Linked DNA regions of Homo sapiens: region 1 is linked to region 2. Evidence: fine-mapped expression QTL. A gene starts in region 2. The other region holds a variant in brackets. All regions are shown on one strand. Distances are between the middles of the regions.

The links. PIP is the estimated chance that this variant, and not a neighbour inherited with it, causes the effect.
Region 1: its variant is fine-mapped to the expression of TOB1 in whole blood (TOPMed, PIP above 0.99).

What each region holds. Positions count from the first base shown.
Region 1 is chr17:50,941,378-50,949,377 of GRCh38, forward strand. LOC124904102 reads right to left here and starts at 3,793. Exons shown (of 2, transcript XM_047437263.1): 1 at 3,673-3,793; 2 at 2,016-3,254. The coding sequence starts at 3,793. The coding sequence ends at 2,752. LOC124904029 (a long non-coding RNA gene) reads right to left here. Exons shown (of 2, transcript XR_007065849.1): 2 at 7,676-8,000. RefSeq lists enhancers at 2,488-3,371, 3,372-4,254 and silencers at 3,205-3,264, 3,325-3,374, 3,385-3,444. The variant C/G (reference allele first, on the strand shown) is at 3,505.
Region 2 is chr17:50,862,851-50,878,751 of GRCh38, forward strand. It overlaps TOB1 (transducer of ERBB2, 1), which reads right to left and starts at 3,504. Exons shown (of 2, transcript NM_005749.4): 1 at 3,208-3,504; 2 at 1-1,313. The coding sequence starts at 1,167. The coding sequence ends at 130. It overlaps TOB1-AS1 (TOB1 antisense RNA 1), which reads left to right and starts at 3,829. Exons shown (of 2, transcript NR_038458.1): 1 at 3,829-4,367; 2 at 4,646-5,521. RefSeq lists an enhancer at 2,120-2,169 and silencers at 2,710-3,319, 3,330-3,839.

The sequences.
Region 1 (8,000 bases), 75 kb after region 2:
ATGGGAAGGACACCGGGCGCAGTGGCCCACGCCTGTAATCTTAGCACTTTGGGAGGCCAAGGTGGGCGGATCACTTGAGGCCAGGAGTTCGAGACCAGCCTGGCCAACATGGTGAAACCCTGTCTGTACTTAAAATACAAAAAATTAGCTAAGCGTGGTAACGTGCACCTGTAATCCCAGCTACTCGGGAGGCTGAGGCAGGACAATCACTTGAACCCGGGAGGCAGAGGTTGCAGTGAGCCGAGATCGTGCCATTGCACTCCAGCCTCAGTGACAGAGTGAGACTCTGTCTTAAAAAAGAAAAAAAAAAGAAACATGGGAACATGGGAAGGAAATTCACCAAAACCTCTGCGAGCGAATGACTCCTTTCTCCCAAATCTGTAATTTTACCATGTCTTCCCCAATCCATTCCTCACACCTTCCTGATGCCTCCTCTTCCCCCATTCCCCAGAGCCTGCTATGCCCCAGGTCCTTCCAGGACACCTCTTTTATTTTTATTTTTTAATTTTTGAGATAGAGTGTTGGTCTGTTGCCAGGCTGGAGTGCAATGGCATGATCTCGGCTCACTGCAACATCCATCTCCCAGGTTCAAGCGATTCTCATGCCTCAGACTCCCAAGTAGCTGGGATTACAGGTGCCCACCACCACACTCAGCTAATTTTTGTATTTTAGTAGAGATGAGGTTTTGCCATATCGGCCAGGCTGGTCTTGAACTCCTGGCCTCAAATGTTCCACCTGCCTCGGCCTCCCAAAGTGCTGGGATTACAGGCGTGAGCCACCGCACCCAACCCAGGACACCTCTTAAACATCTCTCCTCTCTCCGGCCCACTGCCTTGGTGCTTATCAGCTCAGGGACCCCAGTGGTCTCAGGGTTTGCTCTCATCACCACAAGGCAGTTTCCACAGAGATCCAGAATGATCTTGCTAAAAAAGCACGTCTGATCTGCTCACTCCCAGGCTTAACCCCCTTCATTGGCCCTCAGGATTAGGTCCAGAGTCCAGAGCCATCTGCCCCTACCCTGTCTCCACGCTCCTGCTCCCTCCTGGGCTCCTCCTGCTGAGCCTCCTGTCTGACTCAGCCACATACCTGCCGCCAGCCCCTTGTGCCCACAGCACCTGCTCCTCCTCTCTCAGCCCTCTTCTTACTTGATTGTGATGCATTGTGTTACTGCCATCCAGACTGCCCATTTCGAGTTCCCGTGTGCAGCCTGCCTGGACGGAGGCCTTAGCCTCTGCCCTGAGTCCCGGTTGCATGGGAAGTCCTCTGGGTCTCAGTTTGGATGTTTGTGGGTGAGGAGCAGCTGCGGTGGGTAAGGGGTGGCTGATGAGGATCACGGGGTGTGCTGAGACTCCCTGGTCCTTCCCTCAGTGACGCCCCTGCTGTCGCCACTTGTCCCCAGGCTCTAGAAGAACTGGGTCTCTCTCTTGTCCAGTATCTGCCAGGGAAGAGGCTCTTAGGCTCTTATCTGTTGAATGGTTGAATGGGTCACTCTAAACAGCAGCTGTAAATAATGTCCATCTTTTTTTTTTTTTTTTGGAGACAGGGGGCAAACTTTGTCACCCAGGCTGGAGTGCAGTGGTGCAATGGCTGACTTCAACCTCAACCTCCCAGCTTCAAGTGATCCTCCTACCTCAGCCTCAAAGTAGCTGAGACCACAGATTGCATCACCACACCTGGCTAATTTTTCTTTCTTTCTTTCTTTCTTTTTTGATATAGAGTCTCGCTCTATCCCCCAGGCTGGAGAGCAATGGCGTGATCTTGGCTTACTGCAACCTCTACCTCCCAGGTTCAAGCGATTCTCGTGCCTCGGCCTCCCAAGTAGCTGGGATTACAGGTGCCCACCATATCCGGCCAATTTTTGTATTTTTGTGGAGAGAGGGTTTCACCATGTTGGTCAGGCTGGTCTTGAACTCCTGGCTTCAAGTGATCCGCCCACCTCGGCCTCCCGAAGTGCTGCGATTACAGGCATGAGCCACTATCATTTTTTGTTTTTAAATAGAATGGAAAACAAAAACTTACCTTGAAAAATCATTCTTACTGAAATGATTAAAAAGTAACATTCCTGTATCTTCCAAAGCTGAGCAGACACACAGCCGGGCCCCGTCATCCCTGCCCTGGGTATTCACCCAACAGAAATGCATTCATATGTTCACAATACACAGGAACTAGAATGTTCATAGTGGCACTATTCACCATAGCCAGGAACTGGAACCTCCCCAAATGTCCATTAGCAGTAACATGGGTGAATACATTTTAACAGAGCCACACAATGGCAAGCCACCAGCAATGGGTACGAACAGCCCTTGACTGCCTGTGAGAGTACTGACAAACCTCACAAACATAATATGCAGCAAAAGAAACCAGACGCAAAACGGCACCCACTGTATGGCTCCATCTACACACAGTTCAGAAGCAGGCCAGAGCGCCTGCGGGCTGAGTCAGGAGAGAGGCTGGACTCGGGAACAGTAGGTGGAAGGGGTCTCGAGGGGCTTCTGGGTGCCGGTGAGGTGCTGTTTTTTAATTTGGGTGCTGGTTGCACAGGTATGCAAAGCATGTGCAAATTCTTTCAGTTGTACACTTTGATTTGTGCAGTGTTCTGTGTGTGTGCTTAACTTCAATTTTAAAAAGTCTTAAAAATAAAAGTCATGTCTCCTGGAGCAGGTTAAATCCACCTCCCTTTTCTATCCAAGGGCAAGTGGAGAGCAGGTGGCTGGCCTCCCTGGGGCACAACCACGTGTCCCCTCATGGGTGCTACCAGAGTCCCTCCCCAGCCTGAGACTCCTGAAGCCCCAGACTCAGGGATTTTCTTTCCACTAAGCTCTGGTAAGTCCCACCATCACAGACCAGGCCTGTGTCGGCCCCAGAAGCAGGATCAGTGTTAGCTGCAGCCTGGCCCTCACTGGCTGGGTTACTCCGGGCCTCCCTTGCCATCGGCCACCCCCAGGCTTGGCGCGGAGGCGCAGGCCGCCTGGGTCCTCGGGTTGTGTCCGCTGGCCTCCCTCCACCTTCTTGCCCCTGGTGGGAGATGGGAGTGGGGCTTGGAGGTGGGGAGGTGGGGCTGTCGGTGCTCCAGGGTCCCCGCAGAGGGCAGGGAAGCCCTGGACCTGGTCTGACCTTGCGCGCTAGCCCCAGAGGTCGCCGTGCTCTGCTGTCGGCGTTCAGGTGCCCGCGGTCGGGCCGGGGAGGGCAGTAATCAAGCCGGCCCGGCGGCTGGCGAGGGGCGCGGGTCCAGCGCGCTGCCCTCGGCCGCCGCCCTGAGCGGTTATTTATAACCGCGGGTCGCGTTACCTCCTGACCTTAAGCTGGGGCGGGCGATCCGCAGCGATTAGCATCTATCTCCTCCCCGCCGCCCGCTGCGAACAAACACCCCTCTGTGCGCCCTCCCCCGCCCGCCCCGCGGGAGGCCCTGCAGGAAGCAGGATGTTGACCCGGAGCCTCCCTGCGCTCCTGCGGCGGCCCCGCCACATGTGAGTGGCGGGCGGTGGAGTGCGGGTGGGGGGGAAG[C/G]GGGGAGCAGGAGCTACTCGTGTTTGATGGCTTCCCGAGTTGCCAATGTCCTGGTCTATTCTGAGTGACCGCCTTATTTACAATATAGGGCTCCCCAGCCCGTGTCTGCCCAAAGGGGTGCCCTCTCCCAAGCCAGTGGGGGCCAGCCAGCCCTGGTTGGGGCAGCACCTGCACAGGTGGTCCCAGAATCACAGGCTGCAAACCGCATCCTCCAACAGCCAGGCCGTCGTTGCTCGATGGCAGCTGAAGGCCATAGGGGAAGGTGGTTGCGTCGGGGTCCCACAGCCATCCACGGCAGACCCCGGCTCCTGCCTGATGGTTTTTCCCAACGGCTCCCAGAACTCTTGATTCTGGTCTGGAGAAGCCTCATGAAAGGAGGCTGGGGTCGCAAGATTGGCCCATTCATTCAACACATTTTTATTTTATGTATTTATTTTTGAGACAGGGTCTTGCTCTGTCAACCCAGGCTGGAGTGCAGTGGTGGGATCAAAGCTCACTGCAGCCTCAAACTCCCAGGCTCAAGTGAGCCTCCTGCCTCAGCCTGAGTAGCTAGGACTGCAGGTATGTGCCACCATGCCCAGCTAATTGTAAACATTTTTGTAGAGGTCTTGCTATGTTGCCCAAGCTGGTCTTGAACTTCTGGCCTCAAGCGATCCTCCTGCCTTGGCCTCCCAAAATGTTGGGATTACAGGCATGAGCCACTGCACGCCAGGACCATTCAAAACTTTTTTTTTTTTTTGAGTCGGAGTCTTGCTCTGTCGCCCAGACTGGAGTGCAGTGGTGTGATCTCAGCTCACTGCAACCTCCGCCTCCTGGGTTCAAGCAATTCTGCTGCCTCAGCCTCCTGAGTAGCTGGGACTACAGGTGCCCACCACCATGCCTGGCTAATTTTTGTATTTTTAGTAGAGATGGGGTTTCACCATATTGGCCAGGCTGGTCTCGAACTCCTGACCTTGTGATCCATCCACCTTGGCCTCCCAAAGTGCTAGGATTACAGGCATAAGCCACGTTGCCCAGCCTCAACAGCTTTTTTTTAAGGCACCTACTAGGTGCCAGGCACCTTTCCAGGCAAAAATCCTTATCCTGTGGAGCTGACAGTCCAAGGGAAAGAGAGTCCTTCCCTGGAGCCTAGGGCCCCATGATGGAGCCACAGTCTAGGCAGTTGCTGAGGGCCCTGATGGGTGAGTCTTAGGGAGGGAGACTGAGGCAGGGAGTGGGAGGGCCAGGCTTGTAGTGCATTGTGGGACTGCAGCCTGCGCTGGGTATTTGCTGAGCAAGGCCAAGGCTATGTGAGACACTAACATCCTGAGCCTGTGAAGGCTGAGGCCCAACAGTGGGTGTGCCCCCTGCCTAGCTTCAAATGACCTTGCACCCAGGGCAGAGGGTGAAAAGCTCACCCAGTCTTGGGCGTCATCCTGGAAGAACTCATGGAAGAGGACCCACTGAGTCAGGACATTTGAGGAGCGCATTGAGGGCGGAGGGAGCCTGGGCTGCCCGCCTTTCTGCCACGCTCTCAGACACTTGGAGGCGCTTGGGAGGAGTTTGCCTGTGTGACGTGACCAGCCCCTGACCACTCCTTGCCTTCTCTGGGCCTCAGTTTCCACAAATGAGCAGTGAAGGGGTTGGCTGAGATGAGGCGTTTCAAGTCTGGCCGCCTGTGCCTCTGATCTAGAGACCCCCCCCAGGCCAGAGACCCTCCCACCAGAGCCTGGCTCAGGCCAGGTGCATCTGCCTGATGCAGCCCAAGAGGCTGGGCCATGGTGGACCAGGAGTAGCTGTGGCCGTGGGTAGCTGGTGGTGCCCAACAGCTCACACCAGCGTATGAGGGAGTGGCACATACACATATGTGTGGGAGTCTGGTGTGCTGGGTGTGCCTCAGTAGGTAGGTGGCTGCCCAGGGGAGTGTGTGCTTGGCATGTGTTTACGAGGGGTGTAAGGAGTGTCTGCAGCAAGTGTGTAGGGGGTGGGCCACATGTGTGTAGGTCAGGTATGTATAGTTGGGGTGTGGGCGGATATTGGAGGAGTGTCTTAGTGGTCAGGGGGAGGCTTGAGGCAGGGGAGGAAGGCCTGGAGGGGCCACTCCCTCACTCTGCAAACCCCCCTCTGGCCACATGGTCAGCCTGTGGCCGATGCGCCCTGACCAGTCAATGAACTCAGGGTCTGGAAGAGTCAGCGGCTTTTCCAACCTCTTTGCCAAATGGGATGTCAGCATGGGGGCAGGGGTGGTGGGGGTGCAGGCTGGGGAAGGTGGCAATGACTTCATGACCAGACTACTGAGCAGGTGGGGAGAGGGGGCAGGGCGCTGGAGGCCGGCTGGGTGGGGGATCCACTCTGGGTGGGGAGGCAGCCCAGGCTCATGCTTCCTCAGGACCGCTGGATTCCCTTTGTGGGGAGGACCTCCTGGAGGGTCTGCAGGGGGCTCCCTTGGACTGAAAACCCTCCAGGGACTGTTGCATGGGGTCCCAATAAGCTAACAACAGCCCTGGAAGGTAAGGCCTCTTGTCCCTATTTGACAGATGAGGAAACTGAGGCTGGGAGAGGCAGCCACACAGCTAGAGTGAATGGTGAACTGGACTAGGAACATGGGTGGGCGTGTTTCCCACACTGCCCCACAGTGACACAGCGGGGGCGGGGACAGCCCTTAAAATCCGATCCTCCGCGAACACCTTGAATCCTCAAACCTCCATCCATCCAAAAGGGGCTCCGCCTTGGGGAGGCCCTTCGCACACTTCTCTACAATTTGAGGGGCCGTCGGCTGCAATAACCACATAGTGGGGCCACTACAAGTCAACAGAAGCAGACCCTCTCTCCAAAAACACAGCAGACCCTGTCTCCAACACAGACTAGGCCTAGTTCCGACTTCCAGAATGCCGTGGTCCAGCCCTGGCATTGCTGACTCATGGGGTCAGGCTGGCGTTGCTCCTCTGTGGGGCTGGAGGGGCCCCAGATCACAGACCTGGGGGTGGGTGTGAGCACTGTCTTCGTACCCAGAGGCTGAGGTCAGCTTTTGGGCTGCTCTTTCTTCAGCCATTTACTAGTTTCCCATCGTAATAATAACTACCCCTACCTAAGCTTTATAGCTCAGCAAGGACTTTCACAAACATTCTGTCACTCACACCACCCTTGCACCAGCCCTGTGATGAGGAGTTAATATGCCCATTTTATAGAACAAGAAGCTGAAGCTCAAGGAAGGAGGTTCTGGGACTCATCTCAGATCCCATGGCCAGGAAGCGGTGGCCACTCTGGAATTCTTGACCCTGCCCAGACCAGCACCTTCCACAGCAGAGACCCCCTCCAAGGAGCGGGCGACGTGTGACTTCCCCATGGGTGGACTCTGGGCTGCAGTGATCGGCTAGCGGTGCCATCTTTAGTCTGGGAGCTGTGTGAAGCCTGCTCCCCACCTTCCCCCTCCTGCAAATATTGGGGGAGGGGCATGGAGGACAGGAAGATAGAAGCAAAAGTGGCAGTGACCGGTGCATGAGAGATTGGGAGATACGTGCTGGGGAGGGGTTCCCCGGAGCAGAGCTGGCTGCCCTTGGCACTGGGCCCAGGCGGAGGAGTGGCAAGACCAACAGTTCCTGGAGCACAAGTCCCTCAGCCGGTGCCCAGTGCCAGCCATCGCCATGTTCTCATCTGCCAGCAGCAAAATGAGAAAAATAAGGACAATATAGTGAGGTTTTACTAAAGCTAGGTTTACTCAATCCAAAAGACTGTCCTTTTATCTGAGCTTTGTATTTTCAATCGTGTGTGTGTCTGTGTGTGTGTGTCTGTGTCTGTGTGTGTCTGTGTGTGTGAGCACAAAAGGACCTTTCCTTTGACATTTCCTTTTAATGACCTCAAACTCAGCAAAATAAAAAAACTGGTGACTAGCTGGTGTGGTGGCTCATGCCTGAAATCCCAGCACTTTGGGAGGCCGAGGTGGACAGATCGCTTAAGGCCAGTAGTCTGAGACCAGCCTGGCCAACATGGTGAAACCCCATCTCTACTAAAAATACAGAAATTAGCTGGGTATGGTGGCGGACGCCTGTAATTCCAGCTACTCGAGAAGCTGAGGCACAGGAGTCGCTTAAACCTAGGAGGCGGGGGTTGCAGTGAGCTGAGATGGCACCACTGCGCTCCAGCCTGGGTGACACAGCGAGGCTCTGTCGCAAAAACAAAACTGGTGACGACGTCAGATCCTAAATTTTTTTATTTTTTTGAAATGTTAGTGATGTGAGAAATCCGAAAGGCTGAGACCCACTGGGCTAGCTTGTACGTGGCTCTGGGTGAAACCTGGCACAGGGGGGCAATGTTTTTTAATTGAGGGATGAATCTAAACAGCTGGAAGCTTCTCCCGGGGGGAGGAGGGGCTGGGTTCTTGCCCAGACTCAGCCCCTGAGGCCCCAGCCTAGGCATCCCCAGGAAACCTGAGCAGAAGGAACATTCACGTAACTGTACTGGGAATTCTGAGAAGGGCCTAGGGGCCAGTTCCCCATGCCACACACCCTCTGCTCATC
Region 2 (15,901 bases):
TATTATTTTTTTAACCAAGCTTGAATGTATCCTTACTATAAGCTTAAAAAAAAAAATTCTCAAGGAGGTGAAAAAAAAAATCCCCCTTGGGCCCGTGCATTTTAACTTGTACGATACATTTTCTTTTTTTTAGTTAGCCATAACAGGCTGGAATTGCTGGTTAGAATACTGCATGTTATTTAAGCTAAAATTCAAGCCATCTACAAAAGATTTCTCATTGAGGCCTCCATAGGCTGCAAACACATCAAAGGCATTACTGTACTGGAGAGGACTGAGGTTAAGGGGGCTGTCACCTGGGAACATTCCATTGGTACTACTACCTTGACCCTGCATATTAGGAAAAATAAATTCCTTGGCATTAGGAGAAAGAGCAGAGGTTTTCTGCTGTTGTTGCTGCTGTGGTGGTGGTGGTGGCGGTGGCGGCTGGGCTGGCTGCTGCTGTTGCTGTGGCTGCTGCTGGCTACCCAAGCCAAGCCCATACAGAGAGTGCATTGAGGAAGAGATGGCTTTCTGCTTCAAGAGGTCATTCACATTCAAGCCGAGGTTGATGGGAGAAGTACGTGCAACCTTGTTGCTACGGCCACTATTCTTCATTTTGGTAGAGCCGAACTTGGTGGCAGCAAAAGTGGCAGTGGTAAAGGTTAAAGGCTGAGTGGACCGGGGCATGAAGGTAGGGCTTACAGCAGCAGAGTGACCAAAAGGAGGCGATGGAGAGCTGGACACTGATGAGGCTGGGTCACTTATGGGCATAAAAACCTGGGCCTCTGGGTTAAAGCTGTTTTTGATCTCCTTATCCAACTCACATCCATTTTCATTATTATCATCCACGTAAAGCACCTTCACTGGTCCCTTTTCACCAATTTGGTAAGAAACCTCAAATGGGTCGATCCAAACACTAAGATCCTGTGGCAGATTGCCACGAACATCATCAATGTCCAAACCACTCTCTTTGGATGCTTGTTCAATCACTGGGTCCACTTTCTCCCCTATGTGTATACATCTAAACCCCGATCCTTTGTATGGCTTTTCAGGATACCAGTGCCCTTCATATTTCTTCTTAAGAAGTCTTTCAAGTTCTTCACCAAAAATGTTGACACGTCTCCTGGGAAGCTTATTGTACAAATACGAAATAATAAAATTTAGTGCTACTTGGATTTCAAGCTGCATAGCTGCTACGCCACAAAATTAGGTTTCAACTCCCCCACCAAAAAAAAAAAAAAAAAAAAAAGATGTTCAGTTTGTGGCAGAGAAACAAATTTTCATTCAAAGTGCTGGTATTAGTAGATTATCCTTCACCTTGAGTGATCTTGTTCCTTAAAACAAAAGCAAACATATCCAAATAAGATAAATGTAATATAAGTCCCATGACCTTCCCCCCTCCAAAGTAATTTCACCTTTCAAAATGTCTAAGATCCTGTGTTAGTCTGCTAAGGATAAAAAGAAAAAGAAAATGTCTACTAGGACAGAAAGCCTGAAAACTGTTACTAGCACAAAATAAACATAAAATAGAAAATCGTTTATTAAAGTTTAAAATGACACAGGAAAATGTAGATTTACAAATGAAATAATGCTTTTAAAAACCTGTTTCTGAATAGAGTTCTAAGAAGAAAAATCTCTAGAACATGCATTCTTCTCTCCTCAGTTCTCACAAGAATATTTATTGTACTCAGCATCCTCCCCCCACCCCCATATATATAGATGCCACTTTTAGGTAGTAATTTTTATTGTTATTCACCAACTTAGAAGTGAATCCATGTTTTAGTTTACTTTGGATATATACTGTTTAAATCTGCTCTGTCACTGACATTTAAAAATTTGGTTACGTTAGGAAGATCATTTTAATTTCCATAGTACATGATGCTAAAATTAAAGACACTGAGTACTAAATGAACTTCATCCTAGTAAATAATTATGAACCAAATTATTCTATATAGTTTCGGCCTTAAGTATACTAAGAGCATACAATATAATAAAATCCAGCTTCTCTGGGCCTTTTGTTTTCAATGTGTATTTTTCTAAATCTGAAAATACCTATTCGGCAGCAAGTATAACAAAAGCAAAGACACAAATTAAAACTATTGATTATTCTGTTTAAGGCCAGGGTTTCTGAGTTTTAGTCTGATTTTAAAAAACCTCCGTCTGTCCCTCTCTCCCTCCCTCCCTCTCACGGTAACAGCCGGAGAGGCAAGTATGGTAAGGTCGACCTTTAAACGTTTGCTGGATCAGCACTGGGTGGGGATAAGAAAAGATCAAGGGCAAACAGAAGATATTTGCGAAAGGGATCTATTTGCACACTGAAGTTGATTTAAAAGTACGTTTAAAAATCAAGTTGGTCTTAATTCGTCTGTTCTATTTTCCATATTCGTGGTGACAAAGGGAAAAAGAATCTCTGGCTGCCCCCAAACTACAAACACTTTCCAAGTCAAAAGCCTGAGTGCCGGCAGAGGCAGCTGATTAAGCCCAATTGCTTGAAGGTGCAGCCGAGCGAAATTCAGGCTCGGTGGAAGGTAGTTACAAAGCAACGCCTTAAGACAGGCAGGAGTGTGAAGAATTACATAAACAGCCAGTTAGATCTCATTAGATTTCTGCTCACAGCCCTCGGAGCCCAAGCGCTACAGCAGCAGCAACAGCAAGAGGAGGTGGAGGTGGAGGAGGAAGAGAGTACGAGCCTCCTCGGAGAAGGAGGAGGAAGGCCCGGGAAATGGAAGAGCAACCTCTCCCGGCTGGGCACCCAGCACCGAGCAGGTCGGGGCGCCGGGTCAGCCGCTCCCCTCCCCCGCCGTAACCCGACCCGCTGCTCCCCGCCCCGTGGCCCCCGCCCCGGGCTCCTGGGAGCCGGCCAGAGCCTGGGGGAGCACCGGTTCCTCGGCACCATTTTCAGCCTCGCGGCCACCGGCCCCTCGAACCCCAGCGTTCCACCGCGAGCTCGTCGCTCCTCCGGGCACCCCAACCCCCCAATTCCCGTCAGCTCGCCCCGGGCCGCCCGTCCCCGGCCAACTGCCCAGGACGAGCCCGACGCGCCGGCGGCCCCTCGGAGCCGCTCCCCTCGGGTCCTGGCGCTGCCCCCTCGGCGCCCAGGGCCGCGACCCCGCCGTCCCCGAGCTCCCGAGGGCCCAGGGCTCGACGCCGCTGCAGCCCCTCCTCCGCCGCCTGGGCCCGGGGCTCCCGTCTCCTCGCCGACCCCGCCCGGCGCCCCGAGATACTTACGGGCTGCTTCGGGGCGGCTTGGACCACAGACCCGCGGCTGGGCGGGGAGCAGCGCGGCAGGGCGGGGGCGCGGGAGGGTCGGGAGCGGCGAGCTCGCCGAGTGCAAGACGTTGCCGCTGCGGGGCTGAGGACAGAGGACAGAGGCCTCGGGCAGGCCTTGGGAGATCGCCGTTAGTGGCTCGGGGTGGCGGGCACGGGGGTCAGACGAGCGCGCTCACTTCTCCACACAGCCCGGTGCCCGGCCCAGCGTCCCCGTAGTGCGCCCGCTACACGCCGGGCCAGAGCTTCGCTCCTTCTGCCGCGGCGCGCGCCCCGCCTCTCGTTTTATGGCCTCCTCCCCGCCCCCATCCCCTCCGTCGGGGTGCGCGCGCCCGCTCCGCGTCACACAGCTCCGGCGGCGCAGCCATTCCCCGCGCTCCCCGCCCGGCACCCCGGTCCCCCGCCGGCCGGCTCCGCCCCTGCCCTGCCCCCCGACGCCATTGGCCAAGTCCCGCCTGCCCCTGTCCGGACGCGCGGCGGACGCAGGGGTGGGGAAGCCGCACCCTCCGGGCTCCAGGAGGGCCAATGAACCGACGATCGGAGCACTGGGGACGGAATGAAGAGAACGTCTGGAAAGGGACTGTGGGGGCAGACGTGCCAATGAGAGAGAAAGGGGTGGGGTAGGGCGGCTGACGCCCGGTTTAGGCGGAGAGCGCCGGGCAGAGGGGGAGGGGGACGAAGCTGGTGGCGAAGCGGCTCAGGAGAACCGGGGCTGGAGGAGCGGCAAGAGTACCCAGAAAGTGCCCTCTCCGCGGGGGTCTGCGGCCAAGGAGGATCCTGCTCGTGGAATAGCTACCAAATCGGCCTCCAGCCCACCCCAGGGGCGGGGTAGAGAAAGGGCAAACTGTGACCGGGACTTGTGCACCCGATTAATTGAATATTAATCACCCCAAGGCCTAGGCCAACCGCCACCCAGAGAGTGGCAGCTGCAGAACCCAAAGACGTGGAGCCGGGCTGGGGGTGGGGAAGGGAGGCCGCCACAGCTCCCGCCCCGCCGGCAGTTTAACTGCTTCCGCAGCCTCAGGCCTCCCGGTGCGACCCCGGCTGCGACTCGGATCCGTTTATTCCAAATGTCCCAGCCCACGCCGTGCCCAGAGTGTGGCGACACGAGGCCAAACTGCGTATGTATCTGTGTCCATGTCTACACACACACGCATGCGTGCATTTCTAGGGCTTGCTGGATCGCAGGTGCACAGAATAAACGCGGTGCCTGCTTGTAAAGCGCGTTTAAGATCATTCTTGGCTGAAATATGTGCGGGTACCTAGGGAGTGGGGTAAGAGAGGGACTCGTGGTGGGGGGCGGGTAAGTGCCTTTTTCACAACCTGCCCCAGAGAAATACACGAAATTACATCGGGAGTGGAATCGAGCGTCCCTCTCAGCTAAAAATATTACTCACAGGTAGCAACGACGCCTGATTGGCTGCGCTGGTCCCTTCGCAACGAGGCGATTGGCTGCCTGGTATCCAGGAGACCGACGTCAAACTCGGACTGGGAAAAGGGGAAAGTCTGGGGGGAGCGAAGGAGGGGACGGGGAGAAAGAAGCAATGAATGAAACGCCCATCGCCTGGCCTTCCCCTTTCCCCTTTCCCCTCTCCTCTCCATTCTTGGAGCACTTCCTGGAAAAACACCAGTTGGGGCGCCGCCTTCCCCTCCAAACGTTGGGGCCTGCACTCTCAACCTGCTATAAGGAAGTTAAACCGCAGCTCACCGAGGAGTAGGGTGTCTACGGGGCGGGCCCGTGTAGACCAGCTGTGCTCCTCGGGCACAAACCCGCCGTACATGCCAGGCCTAGAAGCTTTTGGCTTTGTGGACGCAAAATCTGGTTGGAGCCGCCTTCTCCACCCTGACTCTCCCGCCTCTCCTTTTTAGAAGGAACCGCACTGAGAAAGGGTATTTCTGAAGGCTCAATGCGTAGGAGAAGGGGTGGGAAGATGGGTTTGTGGAATGGGCTGAGGGTGGGGAGTGGTCAGGTGACTGATTTCATGTTTATTGTACAGATTCCTAAAACATAGTTTTACTAAGTGACTCCTTAAATTCTGATTAATGTGATTTTTTTTTTTTTTTGAGTGTTTGGGTTTTTTAGTTGCAAACAGGAGTGGAATTGAAATGTGAAAGTATGGCAAAACTGTGAAAGCATTTAAATTAAAATGTCCCTTCCTCTGCATTGAAATGTCATCAAAGCGTCAAATATAAATGATTTGTTCAGTTTTCTTTTTTTATTTGTTTGTTTTTGGTTTTCTGTAATGACAAGTCCATCTGTAATAAAAGTGAGTTATTTTTAGTTTTCTAATTAAGCACAGAAATTTCAAGAAACTAGACAGGATATCCTTGGAATGCCTTACCAAAAGAAACACTTCATTTTTCACGTGTTCTAGAAGCACAACTTCTTTTACCATTAGGCAAATAATGGTACTGTACCAAACATCTAGAACTGCGGGACCATGTGTCTTGATTAGTAATTTTATATTGGGGGGGCATATTAGGCATGGCTGAGACTAAAATGTCTAAAGATAGATGAATTGTAATTTTGTCAAACTTATCTGTACTTTTCAATAATTCTCTAAAGAGAAGGGACAAGTTCTCTTTTCTGAATGTCTTCAATCTGTAATTCCAGATTTGAAATATGAGAGCAGTCATCTGATAGGTACTGATTAAATATCAGTAGCATTAAAAGCATTTTTAAGTCAGAAATGTAGATGTCAAAAATTTATGAGTTATTGCTGCTTGGCCTAGGAGTGTAAGAAGATGTCTGACCAAATATAAACACACACACACACACCACACAAACAACACACACGGAGGCCCCATGGCATACTGGAAAAAGCAATGAAGGGTGGGTACTGGGAGGTCTGAGTTTCACACCAGTTTCAATAAACTTTTAGTTTTCTCACCTATAAAAAGGGTTGAATTAGATCATATCTAATGTCTCCTTCAATTAAAAAAAAATTCCACACTTGGCTGGGAGCAGTGGCTTACGCCTGTAATCCCAGCACTTTGGGAGGCTGAGGCAGGCAGATTACCTGAGCTCAGGAATTTGAGACCAGCCTGGCCAACACGGTGAAACCCCGTCTCTACTGAAAATACAAAAATTAGCCGGGTGTAGTGGCACACGCCTGTAATCCCAGCTACTTGGGAGGCTGAGGCAGGAGAATTGCTTGAGCCTGGGAGATGGAGGTTGCAGTGCGCCGCGATCGTGCCACTGCACTCCTGCTGGCCGACAGAGCGAGACTCTCTCTCAAAAAAATAAATAAATAAAATATTCCGCCCTTAAAACTCAATGTTCCTAACATATATACTGCAGCTGTTCTTCAAATACAGATTGCAAGTCAGGGCGCGGTGGCTCTCGCCTGTAATCCCAGTACTTTGGGAGGCCAAGGTGGGTGGATCATCTGAGGTCGGGAGCTCGAGATCAGCTTGACCAACATGGAGAAACCCTGTCTCTACTAAAAATACAAAATTAGCCTGGCATGGTGGCGCATGCCTGTAATCCCAGCTACTCGGGAGGCTGAGGCAGGAGAATCACTTGAACCCGGGAGGCGGAGGTTGCGGTGAGCTGGGATCGCGCCATTGCACTCCAGCCTAGGCAACAGGAGCAAAACTTCGTTTCAAAAAAGAAAAAAAATACATATATATGGATTGCAAATAAAAGGGAAAACTGATTCACATCTCTGAACATTGCCAGTCACGAGGTATAAAATGTTCTTTATCCAAGTTCTGCATATGGCTTATTATTATCTAACATTTACTTTGGAATTGTGCAGGGGAGTGGAGGGCTAACTGCTAATTGTGCAGGGAATTAGACTTATGGAGGAAAAAAGAATTTGATATTAGGCTCCAAGTGTATCACAATCAAGAGGTATTCCTCTCTCTGAGCAAATAACAGTCACTAGAAACTACAGCCTTTGCCTTTCACATCCCTACATTCTACACAATTCCCAGTGGGCCCTTACAATAAAGGTAATCGTTTGGTAAAAAATAACTTCCAATATCTTCATAAAATACAGTTCTTGAAAGTGCCTTGAATTATTACCTAATCCACACAAGAACACACACATGCAACACCTTGATTTCTGAGATAGAGACATCCTAAGTTTTCTAATTCTTAATATGCTTCCTTGTAAATTGAGAAAGGGTTACAGGAGAATAGCTATCACATGGTGTATAATTATTAATACTCATTTTACTTCTTTTTTTTTTTTTTTTTTTTTTTTGAGACAGAGTCTCACTCTGTCGCCAGGCTGGAGTGCAGTGGCACAGTCTTGGCTCACTGCAACCTCTGCCTTCCGGGTTCAAGTGATTCTCCTGCCTCAGCCTCCCAAGTAGCTGGGACTACAGGCATGCGCCACCACTCCCAGCTAACTTTTGTATTTTTAGTAGAGATGGGGTTTCACCATGTTGGCCAGGATGGTCTCTATCTCTTGACCTCGTGATCCGCCCGCCTCGGCCTCCCAAAGTGTTGGGATTACAGGCATGAGCCACCGCACCCGGCCGACTCATTTCACTTCTAAGGAATCAACCTTTTACCTTTATTTGAAAATAAGACAGGCAGGGCAAGGTGGCTCACATGCTCGTAATGCCAGCATTTTAGGAGGCTTGAGGCGGGAGGATCCCTTGAGCCGAGGAGTTCGAGATCAGCCTATGCAACACAGTGAGACCCCTATCTCTATTTTATTTAAAAAAAAAAAAAAGGCGGGAGTGGTGATGCACACCTGTAGTCCCAGCTACTTGGAAGGCTGAGGTGGGAGAATCTCTTGAGACAAGGAGGTGGAGACCAGCCTATACAGCATAGCGAGGCCGTTTCTATTTTATTTTCTTTTATTTTTTAAAAATTAGCCGGGCGTGGTGGCGCACACCTGTAGTTCCAGCTACTTGGAAGGCCGAGGCAGGAGGATCTCTTGAGACCAGGAGGTCGAGGCTGCAGTGAGCAGTGATCGTGCCACTGCACTCCAGCCTGAGCAACAGAGGGAGGCCTTGTCTCAAACTAACAACAACAAAAAAACCCCATAATGTTCTTATTGTGATTTTTATTTATTTCTTTTTAAACGGTCATGCAACATAAATCATAGCACACACATTTTAAAATTATTATTAATTTTTTTTGAGACAGAGTCTCGCTCTGCGCCCAGGCTGGAGTGCAGCTCACTGCAGCCTCCCGGGTTCAAGTGATTCTTCCACCTCAGCCTCCCGAGTAGCTGGGATTACAGGCACCCGCTATCATGCCCAGCTAATTTTTGTATTTTTGTAGAGACAGGGTTTCACCGTGTTGGCCAGGCTGGTCTTGAACTGCAGGGATTACAGGCGTGAGCCACTATGCCTGGCCTAAAATTAATTTTTTAAATCATGCTCTAGTCATTGAGTTATTGAAAACCAAGTAAACCAGTTCTCTTCTAAACATTTCTCAAAAAAAGGCAATCCAGTTACGTCTGAGGAAACCTCAGTGTGGTTTCCTGTGGCTTTTCACATGGGTTTGTAGTGGAGGGCTATATAGTCTCCAGAAGACACTGGCACACAGACATTTGTAATTAAAAGATAACTAGATAATGTTGAACAAGCCTACTAAAGCAACGTGGTCTGATAGGAGAATGTTTCCTTATAATTTGCTCACTTTCTATTATCTTGATGAACAAAATCCAAACCAAATCTTGCAATTTCTTTCCATTAGCCGAGGAGGAAGATTTTGATTTCAGTAAAGAGATTATAGTGCGGGTTCTAGGAGTGATACGGTGTTCATGACATTCTAAGTACAAAGAACATTTATATAAAGTACTCTGAGAGCAAATGTTATTAGAGTACTTTAAATACATTTAAAGCATGGGTTGCATATGTTATTATGCAGCTCTGCTTACTAAAATAGAATGTGATTTTATATATATAACCAATTGTGGCAGACACTGTTGCCAGCTCACCCGTTTCCCATGCCCCATCCTCATTCCCTTTTCTTCCTGACTAAAGAGGCTAGAAGAGCTAAATGCATGTTTTCCCAGGCTTCATTGCAGTAGAGGTGGCACTGTGACACTGTTCTGCAGATAAGATGTAAACAGAAGTCAGCTGGGATGGTTTCTGAGGGTGCTATGCTTTTCCTATCAGAGAGGTTTGTTCTAGTTACTATTGCTGCATGAAAAACTATCCAAAACACGCATTTACTGTGGCACAAAAGGTCAATTTTATTATACCCTTGGATCCTGTAGGTAAGAAATTCAGGCTTGGCCTGGTGGCTCACACCTGTAATCCCAGCACTTTGGGAGGCCAAGGAGGGCGGACCACTTGAGGTTAGGAGTTCGAGACCAGCCTGGCCAACATAGCAAAACCCCCTCTCTACTAAAAATACAAAAAAATTAGCCAGGCATGGTGGTTTGTGCCTGTAATCCCAGCTACTCAGGAAGCTGAGGCAGGAGAATGACTTGAACCCAGGAGGCAAAGGTTGCAGTGAGCCAAGATAGCATCACTGCACTCCAGCCTGGGTGACAGAGAGAGATTCCGTCTTAAAAAAAAAAAAAAATTCAGACAGGGCACAAGGGGATGGATAGCTTATCACTGCTCCATAGTGTCTGGAACCTCAGCTGGAAAGGCTCAAATGCTCAAGTATCATCTGAAGCAGGTCTAACAGAACTTCCTCCAGTGATGGGAATATGCCATATCCGTGCTGTCAAATATAATAGCCACATGCGGCTCTTGAGCACTTGAAATGTGGCCAGTGTGACTGAGGAACTGAATTTTTACTTTAATTTAGTTTTAATGAAATTTAGATTTAAATAATCACATGTGGACAGCAGCTTCTGAATTGGACAGCATGGACCTGGAAGCTTTTTCAAAGCACATGTCTAGCACCTGGGCTGCAGTGACTCAAGGGCTGGGCTTAGTTGGCACTGTTGTTTGGAGCGTTTCCACATGGCCTCTGAATTTCCCCTGTGGTTTGGGCTTCTTACAGCGTGGCAGTTGAGAGGAAGCAGAGCAGTTTCTGGAGAGTGAACTTTTTAAAAATTAAAACCATTTTTTTCAAGTTTTTTCTAGAGATAGGGTCTTGCTGTGTTGCCCAGGCTGGTCTCAAACTCCTGGCCTCAAACAATCCTCCTGCCTTGGCCTCCCAAAGCAGTGGGATTACAGGCATGAGCTACCATGCCTGGCCACCATGGAAGCTGCCACCATGGAAGCTGCCACCAAGGAAGCTGCATGGCCTTTTATGACCCAGTCTCATAAGTCACAATGCACCACTTCCATTACACCCTAATGGTCAAAGTAACCACCAGCCAGATTCAAGGGGAGGGGACATAACCACCACCTCTCATGGAGGAGTGTCAAAGAATTTGAGGCCATTTTTAAAAATCACCACTGGGTCACTTCTCTCTTCTTCCTGCCTTGAACATGGATCTCATGGCAGGAGCTGCAGCAGCTCCTACTGAATAAACCATGAATAAAACGCAAGTTAATCACAGGGACAGGGGTTCTCACCAATGCTAGTCACTGCCTAGGTCTGGTCCACTTTTTAACCGACATTAAGTGTTCCATGACTTGCAGCTGAAGTATTTCCAGCAAAAACACTAATTTTACATCTTTTAAGGAAACCTGAACTTGATTTTCAAAAAAGCCAAAATAAATTTTTCCTCTAATCTAAAATATCAGGGCTTCTTTCTCATTATAAAACCTGGAAATGCTCATTATAGCAAATTTGGAACACATAGAAATAAAGAAGAAAATAGCAATCATCTTTAATCTCTCCATGCAGTGCTAACCATCTTGCTCCATTTCTTTCTGAATGAGTTTCTATCACACACGCAATTTTCTATCCTGCAGTTCACTTAACATTACATTTTTCCTATTTTCTCCTGACATTAAGCATTTGTCACAATCATCATTTTTAATGACTGCATATTATATTCTACTCTATGGATTTAGAATAATTTATTTAACCATCGCTGGGCATCTAAGTTGTTGAAAATGTTTCTGTATTAAAAACAAACATATTTAACAGGCATTTTTATATGTAAATCTTTAGCTACCTCTCTATTTCCCTGAGCTAGATTCTATAAGCAAACTTAGCGAGTGGAAGAGAAGGAATATTTTTTAAGGCTGGTAACATAATGACAATCCACCTTCCAGAGAGATTGTACTTTTTTACCTTCCCAGAGGATACGCACTGCAAAATCACTACATTTTTAGCCAGCGTTGCCTACTAAAAAATTTTTTTCTATCCTTGGCTAATTTGGTAGGTAAAATGATATCTGTTGTTTAATTTTTATTTCTTTGATTACATGTAGGATGAATAGAGTTTGACATGTTTGTCAGCTCGTTGTACTACTGTTTTTATAAATTTTTTATCTATGCCTTTTCTCCATGTTTCTCTTAGAGGTCTTTGTGTTTTGCTTCAATTTGTATGAGTATCTTGCATATTGTGTACAGATACGTGGCTGAAGAGGATCCTGGTCATAAACCTCACTCTAGAACTTGCCCAAACATTTTAAACATGTGATTTTGATGCCTAGAACCTTGCTTTTCAATCTACTGTTTCACTTTATAAGGTCCTGACTAACTCCTGGGTTATCCATAAATGCTTAAAAAAAAAAAAAAAGCAAGCCAGGTACAGTGGTACCTATAAGCCTAGCACTTTGGGAGGCTGAGATGGGAGAGAGGATCATTTGAGGCCATGAGGTTGAGACCAGCCTGGGCAACATAGCGAGACCCCTGTCTCTACAAAAAAAATAAAAATATTAGTAGGGTGTAGTGGCAAGCACCCGTAGTCCCAGCTACTAAGGAGGTTTGAGGTGGGAGTATCCCTTGAGCCCAGGAGTTCCAAGCGGCAAGTGATCATTCCATAGCACTCCAGCCTGGGTGACAGAGCAAGACCTTTTCTCAAAAACAAACAAACAAACAAAAACAGTTCTAATCATTTTTACTTAGGCCTCTGTCTTCTTGACCTTTCTGTCACATTTCACACTGTTTACTAATAACTACTTCAAATATTTCCTTTTGACTTTTAAGACTTTGCCCATTGTATTAACATTGGATATCCTAACATGGCCCCCACTTCCTATCTCAGCTGCAGTGGAGCAGAGAAGAAAAATTATGAATTCAAAATTAGAGAATTTGTGTTTGGGTCTTGCCACCTGGTATTAGTTGGGTATGGCTACTCTGAGTCTCAGCCCTCATCTTATAAATAATTAGAAGCAATAATTACCCTCAGAGTTGTGTGAGAATCAATTGAGGTGACACCTGTGAAAACGCTCTATGAACCGTCAAGCCCCCCATAAATGTGAATATTTTCTTCCTTCCTCTCCCCCTCCCTCTTCCCCTCCTTCCCTACTTTCTCCTCCTCCTCTCCTCCTTCTCTTCCTTCTCTGCTTCTTACATCTGGCAGAAATTCAAGTACCATTTGATTCAGCTCAAGTAAAAATACATGTGAAATTGCTTTTAAACTACAAACAAGTATTATTAACACTCTCTTCTGTCAGATACAGTGTTGCCAACTCAGTCCTTTTCACCTTCAAAAAACCTCTCAGAATCCCATGGCTTGATGTTTTATATTATTATTTAATTATTAGTTTATTTAGCCTTCCGTGTGTTTATGTCCTAGCCTTTGTTGGATTCCAAGCTTTTTAAGAGCAGAAAGCATGTACCTTTACACGAGCTTTATAGTGCCTTGCAGTCAATCAGTATTGACTGATGGCTTTGCTAGGTCGCTGCTTAATCCAATGAAAGAACACAGAATATTTGAGGAAGGGTAAGTGGCTCAGAGTGGCTGCTGTGGATGGTTCAGAGGTGAGAATCTAGAGAGGAGGCTGGTTGGTAGGCAGAGGCCAGATTACCAAGGGAGGAAATCTGGAATTTTGCCTTTAACAGACGGGAAGATGTTGGGTGATTTTTCAGTTGGGAAATGACATTATTGGAATTCTGTTTGGAGCACATTTTATTTATCTCTAAATGCCCCAGAGCATAGTACATTACTTGATACTTAGGAATTGCCCTGCCAATGTGTGTTCAATTGCTAGACGTAGTTTTATCACCCAATGGAATATTCTTCAATTGTTTGGTTGTTCTGAAGAAGAAATACTTACTGTCTTTTAAGGAAGATACAGACCCCACCTGGAGACCAATACTTCTATCCACTTGGGAACAAAAGGAAAAGTTTTGGCCGGGCGCGGTGGCTCAGGCCTGTCATCCCAACAATTTGGGAGCCTGAGGTGGATGAATCACTTGAGGCCAGGAGTTTGAGACCAGCCTGGCCAAGATGGTAAAATCCCATCTCTACTAAAAATACAAAAAGTAGCCAGCTGTTGTGGTGCGTGCCTGTAGTTCCAGCTACTTGGGAGGCTGAGGCATGAGAATTGCTTGAACCCAGGAGATGGAGGTTGCAGAGAGCCGAGATCATGCCACTGCACTACAGCCTGGGTGACAGAACGAGACTCTGTCACAAAAAAAAAAAAAAAGAAAAAGAAAAGAAAAGAAAAAATAAAAGATTATGTGGCAAGGTATTAAGTAAAAAAAACTTACGGTTTCTGAAAAAACTAAAACCTTTCTGTAGAAAATTCTACTGTGGTACCAGGAGGGTTGATTACTTCCACCTTTCCTTGTTGTTAGCCTAGACAACATCTGTTCCCCTTTCTTCCAGCAACAGTTGCGATTTTTGTGTGAGAACCTATACCTCTCCCACCCTTCATCCAGGAGCTTCTAGTGAGACTTGCGATTTTTGTGTGAGAACCTATACCTCTCCCACCCTTCATCCAGGAGCTTCCAGTGAGACTCTTGACAAGGCAAAAGCCAGCGAAAGCATCACATTCTCCTAACTACTGTGATGGGTTTAGGGATGGCTGATCAGAGCCAATAACTCAATTCTGGGACTTCTGTCTGAGGTCTTGGGATAAGGACTCTTTCCCATGAAATATGAACCTGGAAGTATTCATTGTTGAGGCTCCCAGGGCCATCTTAGTACCAAAAGGAGAGAGCCTGTCAGAGAATGTAGCTAACCCAGGTAAAACCAAGAAAAACCAAGTCCTGGAAACAGCCTTTTGAGCAGCCCTTGAATCAACTTTACCTGGACTTTCAGCTACAGGCTGTCTTAGCATAGGTTCCTAAACAAGCAGAGCCCAAGGCAAAGGGCTTTGCGCTACCACTTTATTTTTTATTTTTATTTATTTATTTATTTATTTATTTATTTATTTATTTATTTCGCTCTGTCGCCCAGGCTGGAGTGCAATCGTGCTATCTCAGCTCACTGCAACCTCCGCCTCCCGGGTTCAAGCGATTCTCCTGCCTCAGCCTCCTGAGTAGCTGGGATTATAGTCGCGTGCCACCACCCCAGCTAATTTTGTATTTTTAGTAGAGATAGGGTTTTGCCATGTTGGTCAGGCTGGTCTTGAACTCCCGATCTCAGGCGATCCACCTGCCTTGGCCTCCCAAAGTGCTCGGATTACAGGTGAGAGCCACTGCGCCTGGCCTTATTTTATTTTATTTTTTTTGAGATGGAGTCTTACTCTGTCCTCAACCAGGCTGGAGTGCAGTGGTATGATCTCAGCTTACTGCAACCTCCGCCTCCCAGGTTCAAGGGATTCTCCTGCCTCAGCCTCCCTAGTGGCTGGGATTACAGGTTCCTGCCACCACGCCCAGCTAATTTTTGTATATTTAGAAGAGACGGGGTTTCACCATGTTGGCCAGGCTGGTGTCGAACTCCTAACCTCAGTTTGCTACCACTTTAAGAGGGAGTGAAATCCCAGGAAGCAGGAGAGAGGGGCAAAGAGAGTAAAACAGCAAAGGAGGAGAACCTATTTCAGGTTGCGTTATTAAACCAATTGCTGTTAAGTAAAATTGCTTGATTCCATGGATTAGTCCTCCAAGAAGCCCTATAAACTGTATCCCTTTATGTGAGAAAAGAAAGGGGAGAATTCATCCATTGGTTCCCATCTCCCACTGGTCAAATAATTTATGCCATGTTGCATAACTGTATTGCATGGGTGTGTGTCCTGTCTCTCCAAGAGGCCTGCATTGTCATGAGAGCAGGCCAGTAGCTTCTACTGCCCTGTGCCTACACCATCCACAGAATGCTTAGTAAATATTTGACTGAACTGACTTTTCATAAAGTTCAGCATTCTGCTATTTGATCATTTGCATCCCAATGAGTTTTCCCCAATTTGTGCTGTTTTATTAACCTGTTAAATGTTATCATTTGAGTGGTACTTACACAATCAATTGCCAGCTGATTTCACATACTCAGTGGCATTTGGATTCTAAAGCCAAATCATTATCCTTCTATTCTCAATATGGTTAAAATCAAAAAATGTTAAATGACATGTAAACTAGCTCCAAGAGATTCGATGTTGACCAACACAGGGATTCCAGAAACTAAGAATGGAGAGACCAAGGGGAAGGAAATAACTAAAGAACTCAGAGAAGAAAAAATTGATGTATCAGTTAAGTAATAATTAAAGTTTTGGCTAACATAATTAATAAACTTGACTTGGTAGATATCGGTGTTCTTATAGGACTTTCCACATATAGACATTCTTTTCAACAACCCATGGACTAGTTTTAAAATTGCCTGTGTAATATGTAACCAAGAAAATTTACATAAATTCCCCCAAATAAAAACCTTATGACCTATACTGTTCATAGATCATTAAAGCTAGAAATTAACAACAAATATAGCAAAACATCTCTTTACTTGCAT